2 separate regions of the Homo sapiens genome follow, and region 2 is linked to region 1. Evidence: fine-mapped expression QTL. Tissue or cell type: whole blood. Region 1 holds a variant in brackets; the other region holds the start of a gene. All regions are shown on one strand. Distances are between the middles of the regions.

Evidence for each region. PIP is the estimated chance that this variant, and not a neighbour inherited with it, causes the effect.
Region 2: AFDN starts here. The variant in region 1 is fine-mapped to the expression of AFDN in whole blood (INTERVAL, PIP above 0.99).

Annotation. Positions count from the first base shown.
Region 1 is chr6:167,734,281-167,739,970 of GRCh38, reverse strand. No RefSeq gene overlaps it. Among named protein-coding and RNA genes, the nearest start is that of LINC02487, 41 kb to the right of the region's middle. The variant T/C (reference allele first, on the strand shown) is at 3,487.
Region 2 is chr6:167,824,131-167,829,474 of GRCh38, reverse strand. AFDN (afadin, adherens junction formation factor) reads right to left here and starts at 2,564. Exons shown (of 34, transcript NM_001386888.1): 1 at 2,238-2,564. The coding sequence starts at 2,342. It overlaps AFDN-DT (AFDN divergent transcript), which reads left to right and starts at 2,679. Exons shown (of 2, transcript NR_027906.1): 1 at 2,679-4,072; 2 at 4,669-5,344. RefSeq lists silencers at 2,412-2,611, 3,526-3,595 and enhancers at 2,762-2,841, 2,872-2,941.

The DNA of each region.
Region 1 (5,690 bases):
CGTCCACACGTCAAATCACGGGATGTGGACAACAAATTGGGGAGCAGCCACACCATGGCGGGCTACCCAGTAGCGAGGGGATGGATGCTGATCCAGGCAACGGGGTGGACGCACCTCGAAACATGACGGTAGGCAAAAGACGTCCGAGGCAAAAGATGGTACACTGTGTGACTCCATTAGTGGGAAGTCCAAGAACAGGCAAATGAAGCCATAAGGATAGAAATCGGGGCATTTGATCAGAAAGGCCCAAGGGAACTTTCTGGCTTGGTGGAAAGTGTGTTTTATGCCTTTCCTTGTGTGGTGTGACATGGGCCTGGGCAAGCGTGAGAACACATTGAGCTGAACATATATGATCTCCATGTTTCCTTTTACATCAATTATATATTGATTAAAAAAAGAAAAAAAAAAGGAACACATGAGTGTTTTGCTCTTTTTGTCATCTTTGGGTTCAACTCCAGACGACTTTTCCTTATGTGGCCTGGAAACCACAATCTCCCAGTGAAGGAAAGACCTCTCTGGGCCAGGCCCTCATGAACTCTCAGCTTTGTTCCCTCTGGCCCTGAGCTAGTGCTTTTGAATCAAAGTTTCTCCAAACGTTAATTGAGGTAAGACTTTCTTTGCATATTTTGTTAGTATATTTAGAGGATGAGCTTTGAATACATATATTTATTCAAAAACACATATTGGGCTGAGCCCTGCAGATACCAAGATATGAAGACCTGACTCATACCCCGAAGGAGCCATGCGGTGCTGGGCCTGACAGGGAAGTCGGCTCACTCTGTCTCTCACGTGATATGGTCATTGTCCTAATTTTTATATGGTGCAAATTCATTGTAGAAAAAAAATTTCAATGCACAAAAGCACAAGAAGAAAACTACAGGTGCCCATGACCCCAGAGACAGCTCCCACCGTCATCGCAGGTATTCCCGGCTGTTTCACTCCACCCAAATTGTGACTGCCATGTACATACTATGTCCATGCTTTTCCACTCAACATATACTGAAAAAACTTCTCCACACGATTCAATGCATGACGTTCTGTCATAGGAAGACACTATAATTTATTAAGCTAAATCTGTGCTGATGAAAATTTGTTTGCAGCATCTGTAAAATTGTGTTTGCGTGTGCATGCACACGTTTCTCTGGCAAGAGGAGGCAGAGGCCCCATTGTGTTGCTTTGTTTGCAATTCCTCTCACAAGTGCATGCTTTTCACACACTTTAAAGCGCCTCTTAAGGAATGAGACACTGATTTCTTCCCTTCGTGTGCCACCCCATGGTGCTAGCACATGCTGGGTGGGGGTGCTCTTCAGGGTGCCCTGGGAGGAATGGGCCGGGTGGGCTCTGAGAGCCTTCACAGCACAGGCGTTGGGTGGGAGAGCGCTGGGCAGAGGCGCCAGCAGGACCCGGCTGCCAAATGCGAGAGGCAGCCCAGTGCTGGGCACACGTGGGCCGTTGTCAGGCGGCAATACACCCTCCGGGTCGGTGATTCCCTTGGGCAGGAAAATGCATTTTGAAAAATCTATCCAACAATTATACTTTTCTATCTAGAAACATAAGCAACTCTTGGTTTAATAATAAAAACTAGAGTGCATACATCTCAACAAATCTTCCGTGCTGGTGAGGTAAGAGAAGAGGATGGCCCACCGGACCAAAAGGGCTGTCATGATGGGGAGGAAGAGGCTGATGATGAGAAGCATCGTCGAGGACCTGTTCCTGGGAAACCTCTCCTGGTCATTATCCACACCTGCTGGAAGAAGAAGATAAGGTATGTCTGCTAGCCAGTCAGAGGCGACGTTCTCTTTCGCTTGCTTGGTAAATATTTATGGGATGTCTATCTCCTTCTCAGCATAGGTCTGGGTTCTGGATACACAGATGAACACTGCCTGGTCCTTATTCTGGAGGAATTTCTAGTCCCATAGGGAAGATGAGCACACAAGCCTACTGACGAGAAATGTTCTAGAGCCCAGAAGAAGGGGCAGTTCATGCAGCCCCCAGAGAAAATGATAGACACGTGGACACAAGAAAAAAGAAAACAAGCCAGCCTGGCAAATGAAGGGGGCAGCAGGCAGGGCCGGGAGGGCCCAGAGCTCCAGGAGCATGGAGTGGAGGGTGACAGACGAGGAGGCGAGATGGAGCCCAGGTGACTTCCAGCTCCTCCCACTGCAGGGTTTGTTTTGGGGCCAGCTCACAGCACAACCTGTGGAGGACGGACTACGGGGGGAGCCTGGCGGGGTGCACTGGGAGAGGGAGGACGCAGCCCTCATAAGGCCCTGACACTTGGGGACGTGGGGCTGCGTGGAGATGCAGGGTGGCTCTCATCCCGGACTGGGCACCTGCTTGACTAGGGGTGCTGGGCAGACTCTGCAGCCTGCCGGGGCTCCGCACTGGGGCTGATGGTGAAAGCTCAACTTTAGCATTAGCAGTCCAAGGCTGAAGCTTGAGATGGAAGCTCTGTCTGAGTGGGCTCTGTCCCTGTTGCCTGGCATGCAGCGTGCGCCGGTGGCAGCAGGTGCAGTGTTGGGAATGCTGCAGGATGGAAGGGTCTCCACCGCTGTCCCCTGCAGTGGCCAGGCTTGGGAGAAGGTGCAGCAGCCACGCTCCGAGCCACCCTGGGTCTCTGCTGCAGCCCCCACTGTCCCAGCAGCTCATCGTTACTCAGCCCAGGCCAGGCGGCGCCCTGGCCCTGCAACCCCACGGTGGGCCCGTGGGCCATGCCCCTCGCACTCCGTCAGCCTCTCTGAATGGGGGTCACGAAGCAGCCACATCACACAAAGTCCGCTAGTCCTCTGGCTATGCGGGCAGCAGAACTGGGTGTGCTGGGCTGGGTCGCAGCATCAGATCCCAGCCCAGCAGGCAGAGGGCAAGGCCCAGGCAGGTGCTGGCACCAGACCAAGAGCGGGGCACCCTCAGAACACGGTCGGCACTGTCCATTCCCTGGAGTCGGGGTGCACATGGCAGTCAGGAGGGAGCAGCCTCCCCACCTGCTTCCCGGGAGACTGTGACCTAATTCTTATTTCCAGCCACCTCGCTTGGTGCTTGGCACACCTGGGACCAGCTCCACTTCCACTCAAGAGAGATTTCTGGCTCAGCTTCAGTAGAGGGATTCCAGAGAACTCTAGAAGATGCCGTGACAGGGAAGGAAGGCACAGGCTGTGGAATCAGTCTGGGTTCTGCCCTGATCTCATGCGAGAAGGAGCTGAGTTTGCCTTGGCAGTCATCTGGTTTCTTAGATTCTTAGTGGTTTAATCTCAAAAGAGCTGCAATAGCAGTGTTTGCCTCGGTCAGTGTGAAGCTGCAAGGGAGCGTACACCCGCCCCAGGCCGCATCTGGAGCACTGTGGGTGCTGGCAGCTATCACCCTCCATTTCCTCTCTTTTGCTGAATAGAAAGTGGCTTCACCTGGAGACCATGGCGTCCACTTGACGAGTCCACGTTGCTGTCATCTTTTATTGGAAGTGTAAGTGATATCCACACATTTGTATTTTTT[T/C]GGCATTGCAAAAGCTTTAAAAAGTCATTTTCCTCAGGAGGAATATCCTGGTGAAGGTTTTTTTTTTCTTCCTTTTTGCCATCAATAAGCTCTTCTAGAAATGCCTGTTCTTTGGCTGGAAAAGGTTAAGATTCAGGTCATTCTACAAAACCCACCAAGCAGCCATGGGAAATACGAAATGGATCTTCAAATTACAGACCCTACTGAAGGGGGTAAGGAGTAGAAGGCTGAAAGAAAGACTGTTCGTTCACTTTCAAGCATGCATCTTCCACTGCTGTGAGACGCCGATGCCCAAGTGTAAGTGGTGACTGGCACACATGACAGCCACCAGCTTCTATTCTCTGGAGCCAACAAAGGCCCATTCCAGGTGTTGCCCTATTCCAGGATTCCGGCCGGCAGGGCAGCTTCCAGTGACACCTGTTTTCCTGTGATTCTAACAGCACATTCAGTGCAAGGCACTTTATTATGAGTGGAATCTTTCAGGCAAGGATAATATGTTTCCAGAGTGTCTTAGGGACTAGAAACGGAGTTAAGGAATATGAATAATATCCACGAGAAAGACTGAGGAGAGAAAAGTAAACAAAAACACATAAGAAAGCAGACACGAAGCCAGGTGGGGGTGCAGGCCTCTCTAGCTGGGGAAGGAGCTCACTTTGTCCATGGGGTTGACGGAGAGGGGGTGGCCTCAGGGTTGCAGGGTCTCTTGAGCAGCTGGAGCTGGACAAATAGAGGGAGCAGAGTTCAGCAGGGGAGGTCAGTGGCAGAGGTCAGTGGTAGAGGCCAGCGGGGGAGATCAATGGCAGAGGTCAGTGGGGGAGGTCAGCGGGGGAGGTCAGCAGCAGAGGTCAGCGGCAGAGGTCAGTGGCAGAAGTCAGCAGCAGAGGTCAGCAGGGGAGGTCAGCAGCAGAGGTCAGTGGCAGAGGTCAGTGGGGGAGGTCAGTGGGGAAGGTCAGCGGGGGAGGGCAGCAGCAGAGGTCAGCAGCAGAGGTCAGTGGGGGAGGTCAGCGGGGGAGGTCAGCGGGGGAGGGCAGCGGCAGAGGTCAGCGGCAGAGGCCAGTGGGGGAGGTCAGCAGTGGAGTTCAGTGGCAGAGGTCAGTGGCGGAGGTCAGCGGGGGAGGTCAGCGGGGGATGTCAGCTGCGGAGGTCAGTGGCGGAGGTCAGAGGGGGAGGTCAGTGGGGGACGTCAGCGGCAGAGGTCAGCGGGGGAGGTCTGCGGTGGAGGTCAGCAGGGAAGGTCAATGGCGGAGGTCAGAGGGGGAGGTCAGCGGCAGAGGTCGGCGGAAGGTCAGCGGGGGAGGTCAGCGGTGGAGGTCAGCGGCAGAGGTCAGAGGGGGAGGTCAGTGGCAGAGGTCAGCAGGGGAAGTCAGCGGCGGAGGTCAGTGGGGGAGGTCGGTGGGGGAAGCCCTGGGGTTTCAAAGTGCTCTGTGATGACCCCTTTGGAACTGGAGACAGAGGAAGGAACTGGTGGTCAAGGACGGGCTGGGGGCCATGCCCATTCCATCCTCCTTTTGACCCTCCTCGCTCTGTTGCAACCCTGGGAAAGTCGTGGAAGCTCTCTGGGCTCCACTTTCCTCATCTGTGAAATGGGGACACATCCTATTTGCCAGCTTGGTGAGGGTGTGTATCTGACAGAGGACCCTGGAGATGTCCTGGGACCAGGGTGTCACTTCCTCGCCCCAAACCAGGAGGATCTTCGTCCTGCCCATTCTGTGGGGTCCGGGGTGGCAGGTGTCTGGGTGAGGATTTGTAGGTCAGCACCCACAGCATCACACTGAAGGGGGCTTGGCTGTTGCTGAGTGTGAACAGGGGGATTTTCTGAGTTTTATTCCTACAGTGGCCCCTTGTGCCCTACTGAGGAGTCAGGTGTCCCATCCCAACATCCAAAGGACACTTACAAGCTCAGGCCCCAGGAGAGGCGCCTGCAATCTTTGCGCAGCTGCACCCTGAGTGCTGGGGCTCCACCCAGACCACAGTGAGGTCTCGGGCACCCTGGTCACGCCCTTGGCATTGACTTTGTGCAGTCATGTGGGACCCAGAGCCACAGCTGTGCCGCAAAGCGGAGGCAGGAGAGGAGGCAGCCTCCACATTCCATGGTGGACTGGGGAGTGCCTTTGAAAATGCTGTTATTAAACCCAATCGCCAAGGGACATTTTGAGTTCAGGGCACCCTCCCGGGGCACGGAGAGGTCTGGCTCTGTTGTGGCT
Region 2 (5,344 bases), 90 kb before region 1:
AAAATAATCATTAGATGGTTAAAAAAAAAAATTCACACGAGCTTAGACAAAGCAAATTGAAACTGTTGGCCTTGAAATACTGGCTGAGAGAATTACTCATATTAAGTTTACCTACATCATAATAAAAGATACAATATGTTAAATGCAAAGCTTAACTAGGACCAGAATAAATTTAATAGTACAGGAAAGTTCTCGAGAAAACAAAATAGAAATGTGAGCCAGCCACTATATAGTAAAAAAGCTAAAAAACCAATATATGGACATTCTTAAAAACCATTCATTTCATTATGAAAGGCTTCTAATACAATTCTGAAGAATAATTTCTAAAAATGGAAATGTTCAGATATAAGTAGGGAGAAAAATTAGGAAATGAAATATATCATCTTTTTTTCCAAGTCCTTCAATTCTTGTTTTGCTTCAGTGTATGTACAAAGCAAACTTTCACCTACAGTATAACTGAAAAAACAGCTTTCCAAATGACAGGCCAATTTTAAAAACTAGTCATATCACTAAGAAATAAAAAGTTTCAATTGAGTGCTTAAAATAGAATTTAATTAAATCAATGAACTATAATGTTTCTGATTTGAGATTTTTTTAATGCTAACTCAATTCAAAATCCCAAAAAGCTGAATTCTCTTTATTAAACCGAAAAAAGATTCCTTTCCACCAGACTTGAGAAATCTCTCAAAAAAAAAAAAAATCCATTCAAACAAAAAAAAAAAGCTACACACCAAGAAAATGTTTTATGGTCAACTTTTTTTACCTTGTGATAAAAAGAAAAATGAATTCATTATTCTAAAAGAAAACATAATCCTGAAACTAAATTATCATGTCACCTTTCTAAAGATACACTAGTCTATGAACGAACACTTAAGTACATAGTACTAACTCCCTTACTAGAACCTAACTCATAAAATCATTACAGAAGATGAATGAATCAGGAGTAACTTAACATAACATCTATGCTCAAATTGACAACCTGAGCCTAATGGCGTGTGTCAGTATTCAACTCAGTATTAAGACAAATGGCTAGCTACCCACGTCAAGTGCAGTCACAGGTACAGATGAAAACAGAAGAAATAGAGTCCTTCCCATGACTGGCAAAAACTCAAGAAATCAGAGAAGCAATAGTCAAATTCTCTCAAAAACATAAAGTGGAATTTAATGATAAAAGGATTACATTTCGTAAGAATGTTCAAATCTGCCAAACATGTTTTGTTGCCTAGGAGCTAGTATTTTATAGCAAGTATTAACTATAAATTACCTATTACAACAAATCAAAAATAGACGCTATTAAAATGATTTCCTAAACGGGCACAAATATTGAGTGAAATTTTTTTATGCTGGTAAAGTCTGTGCAGCCACCGAATGAACAGAGCGCGGAACCGACCCTTGCGGAGCGATTTACAGGGTTGCTCCCCGACCCTTCACCTCCCTCCCCTCTCCACGGAGCCCTTCCTAGTGGACTTGGACTCAAACATTTTTTTAAAAGCTGCTCGGAACGCTTTCAGCAGCTTTGCTATAAACAACCCCCATTGTTACCAGGCCAGGAGCGAGCGTGATTTCCTCCTCCTCTCAGGGAGCCAGCCTGGGGCCGGCGCCTCCCTCCGGGCAGAGGCCGCCGCAGAGGGCCCTTCCTCGCGGCCCCGAAGGTGGAGAAGGCGCGCCTTTCCTCGGAGGCGTCCGACTCCGGGCCTGTGCCATCAGGCAGCCCGCACCTCCCGAACTTTGTGATACTGACTTTCCCCTCCCAGCTGGCAGCCTGCAAGTTTATGAACCCGAAGCACAGCGCGCGTCACAGGCTCCATCCCGGCCACGGCGAAGGGGCGCCGCGAGCCACAACCGGGCTGCAGGTGGAGGGCGCCGGCCCCGCGCGCCGCCGCGCCCCCCGCGCCGCCGGGGATGAGGCCGGGGCCGCGCCGCGCTCGCGGGGGTGGGGGCGGCGGCCCAGGTGAGCCACCAGGTGAGCGGCCGGAGAGGGGAACAGGTGACTGCCGCGCCCCGCCAGCCCCCGCTCGGCCCGCGCGACCCCGGGATACACCGCGGCAGGGGGACGGGGGCTGCGGGGGACGCCGGGGCCCGCGGTGGGCCTGGGGGAGGGGGAGGGGAGAGAAGGGGCGGAGGGGGGAGGGGGAAAGGAGGGCGGGTCCGCGGCTGGCGGGCGGCGGCGGGGGGGAGGGGCGGGGCGCGGCGCAGCGGGCGGGGGTCGCGCAGGCCCCGCGCCCGGCGGTGCTCACCTCGGTCGGCTGGCTGATCTCGAACAGGTCCAGCCGGTTGGCGTTCCAGTGGTGGATGATGTCGGCCAGCTTCCGCCGCTCCTCGTCACGGCCGCCCGCCGACATGGTCCTGGCCGCGCCTCCTCAGCCGCGCGGGGCCGGGGCCGGAGGACGGGCCGAGGACGACAGGTCCGCGGGGGCCCGGCGCCCCTCGCCACCCCCCGCCGGCCGCCTCCGCCTCCGCGGCTGCCTCCGCCTCCGCGGCCGCGCCGCGTCCTCCGACTTGGCCTCCGCCTGGGGCTCAGTCCGCGCCGCGCCGCGCCGCCTCAGCCCCGCCGGCCGGTGTGCGCCCGGCGCCCGCCGCCCGCCGCCCGCACCCGCCCGCGCCCCGCCCGCCGCCGTGCGCGCCGCCGCCCGCCGTGCGCGCCGCCGCCCCGCGCGGCGCCGCCGCACCTCCGGGCCGCTCCACTAGGTGCTGCTGCCGCGGCCGCCAGGGAGGGAGGTGTCGGAGGGCGGGCCCCGCGCGGTGCTAGGGTTCCGTCTGGACTGGCGGTGGTGGGTCCCAACCGGCGGTACCGGGTTCCTTCCCGACCAGCGGTGCTAGGTTCGGTTCGGACGCGCGCTGCTGGATCTAAATGGGCAGTGCTGGGTCCGATGGGTGGTGCTGTGTTGGGTCCGGACGCGCGGTGCAGAGTCCGGACGGGCGGTGCTGGATCCAAATGGGCGGTGCTGGATCTGGACGGGCGGTGATGGGTCCGATGGGCGGTGCTATGTTCGGTTCGGACGGGCGGTGCTAGGTCTAAATGGGCGCTGCTGGGTCCGATGGGCGGTGCTGCGTTCGGTCCGGACGGGCGGGGACGGGCGGTGCTGGGTCCAAATGGGTGGTGATGGATCTGTGGACGGGCGGTGCTGGTTCCAGACGGGCGGTGCTGGGTCCAGACGGGCGGTGGGTCCGATGGGCGGTGCTAGGTTCGGTTCGGATGGGTGGTGCTAGGTCTAAATGGGCGGCGCCGGATCCGATGGGCGGTGCTGGGTTCGGTCCGGACTGGCGGGTCCGGGTCTGGACGGGCGGTGCTGGATCCAAATGGGGGTGCAGTGCTGGATCTGGACGGGCGGTGCTGGGTCCGAACGGGCGATGGGTCCCATGGGCGGTGCTAGGTTCGGTTCGGACTGGCGGTGCTGGGTCTAAATGGGCGGCGCTGGGTCCGATGGGTGGTACTGGGTCCGGACGGGCGGTTCTGGGTCTGGACGGGCGGTGCAGTATCCAAATGGGCGCTGCTGGGTCCGGACGGGCGGTGCTAGGTTCGGTCCGGACGGGTGGTGCTGGGTCTAAATGGGCGGTGCTAGGCTCAGCAGGGGACCGGTGGGCGTGGCGGCACAGGTACGGAGCGCAGGGCCGGTGGAGCGCCCTCTCCGAAGGGCCCTGCGCTCCCCGCGCTCGCTGCTCCTCCTGCCCGCGCATTGCCCCGGGGCTGCTGCGTGTTTCTTCCAGGGTGATTCCTTTCCGCTGGGTCACTTCAAAGCCGACCTTTTCAAGCTGTTTTCTTCCGCGGAGGACACGTTGTTAGGCTTTGTGTGCATTTCAAGGGTCATGTTTTCTGAACCGCGCTCTGCCGCTCTTGGGGTGTTCGAGCCCCCACACTGCTGTGCGGTGTTCCTCTCACAGAGTGAGGTTGGAGGGTCCCACTCCCTTTGTGTGTCTCCTTAGAAAACGCCTCTTCTCTCAGACACATCGTTATCTGCCAATTCTTCGCAGACGTAGAGAACGGACTGCAGAGTTAATAAACGTCGAGGGGAAGCTTTGATGCGCCCCATTTGGCCCTGAGAGATGCCACGTGATCGTCATTTTAAATCCTGTACGTGTCCCCGTGGACGTGGAAACCTGAAATTAATTTCAGTAGCAAGCTTTGTGAATTGTAGGGATTTTTTTTCATAAGGTGTCTTTTTTGTAATTGCCCCTCCCCTCCCCCACCCTTTGTTTTGGCTGCAGAGCGCCATCTCTGCAGTCTCCCCACGCCGGGTTCAGTCAGGCGAAGTTGCGTTATCTGTGATGTGTTGTAACAAAAAGCGTTTATCTTTGAAACACTAAGGCAAGTAATGAGAAGAGTGAACTATATTTGACAAAGCCTTTTTATTTTTGTCATTACTTTTTTTTCCAATGTGGAAATAATTTTTCTCTCCACCAACTGGATTTCCTCTTTTGCAGACAATTAAAGAATTCTGTCATCCCCACTGGGTTCTGTCTTTTCTACCGCACTTGTCCAGTACAGCTACATAAGGAGGCTTCTCAGCAGAGGAGCCTGGGGTGTTGAACCAGTGCCATGAGGGAATGAATTATTCAATAGATCGCTAGTCTCCTTTCTTAAAATTAAAGTGTGGTGACTTGCAGAAAAGCATCTGTGTCTAAATGTCATCTTCGTGTTCTAGCACTCGGTTTCTTTATGCCTTTCAGTTCCTGGGCTTCCCGATGGACTCGAGTTTTTACTATGTGAGCATCCCGGTGCCTGCACAGCAAGGACTCTCATTGGGTTCCACACGTGCTGCGCAGATCCCTGACGCAGCGTTCACTGAACCTCAACTGCAGGAGCTTCATTCCTGAGGACGCTGTTACCAAGAATGACTTGCCTCTTGAAGAATGAGTTTGCAAAGCCGGCAGTTAGATTGCTGATGTCCAAAGTAAGTATGTGTAGCATCACTAAAGAGAAAATTCAGGATTCCTGGAAAACAGTTATGGGCTCTCTGCAGTGTTATTTTTGTAATAAAAAACATATAGCATATGTGAAATACCTACTGGGTGATGCAGGACACATAGAAGGCTCGAAATTAATGTGAATCATTCTCGTTTTTCTGACTGTCATTAAAAGTCCCCATTTGTATTATGTATGAGTGGTATATCAATATCTAAACTACACTTTATTGTAGGTCCCAACCAACATTAGTTTATTGACAAATGTTTAAGAGCAGCCAAAAATTCATAGAATACCTATGATTCTTAAATCATGAACACTCCCATAACTGGTATATGTTTAGGACATGAAAATTTCCAGGCTGACAAATAATTTCGCTGTCATCGGTCAAGACTCCAGGATGATATTCTGAGCCATATGTTAATTTTGATAACCACCTAG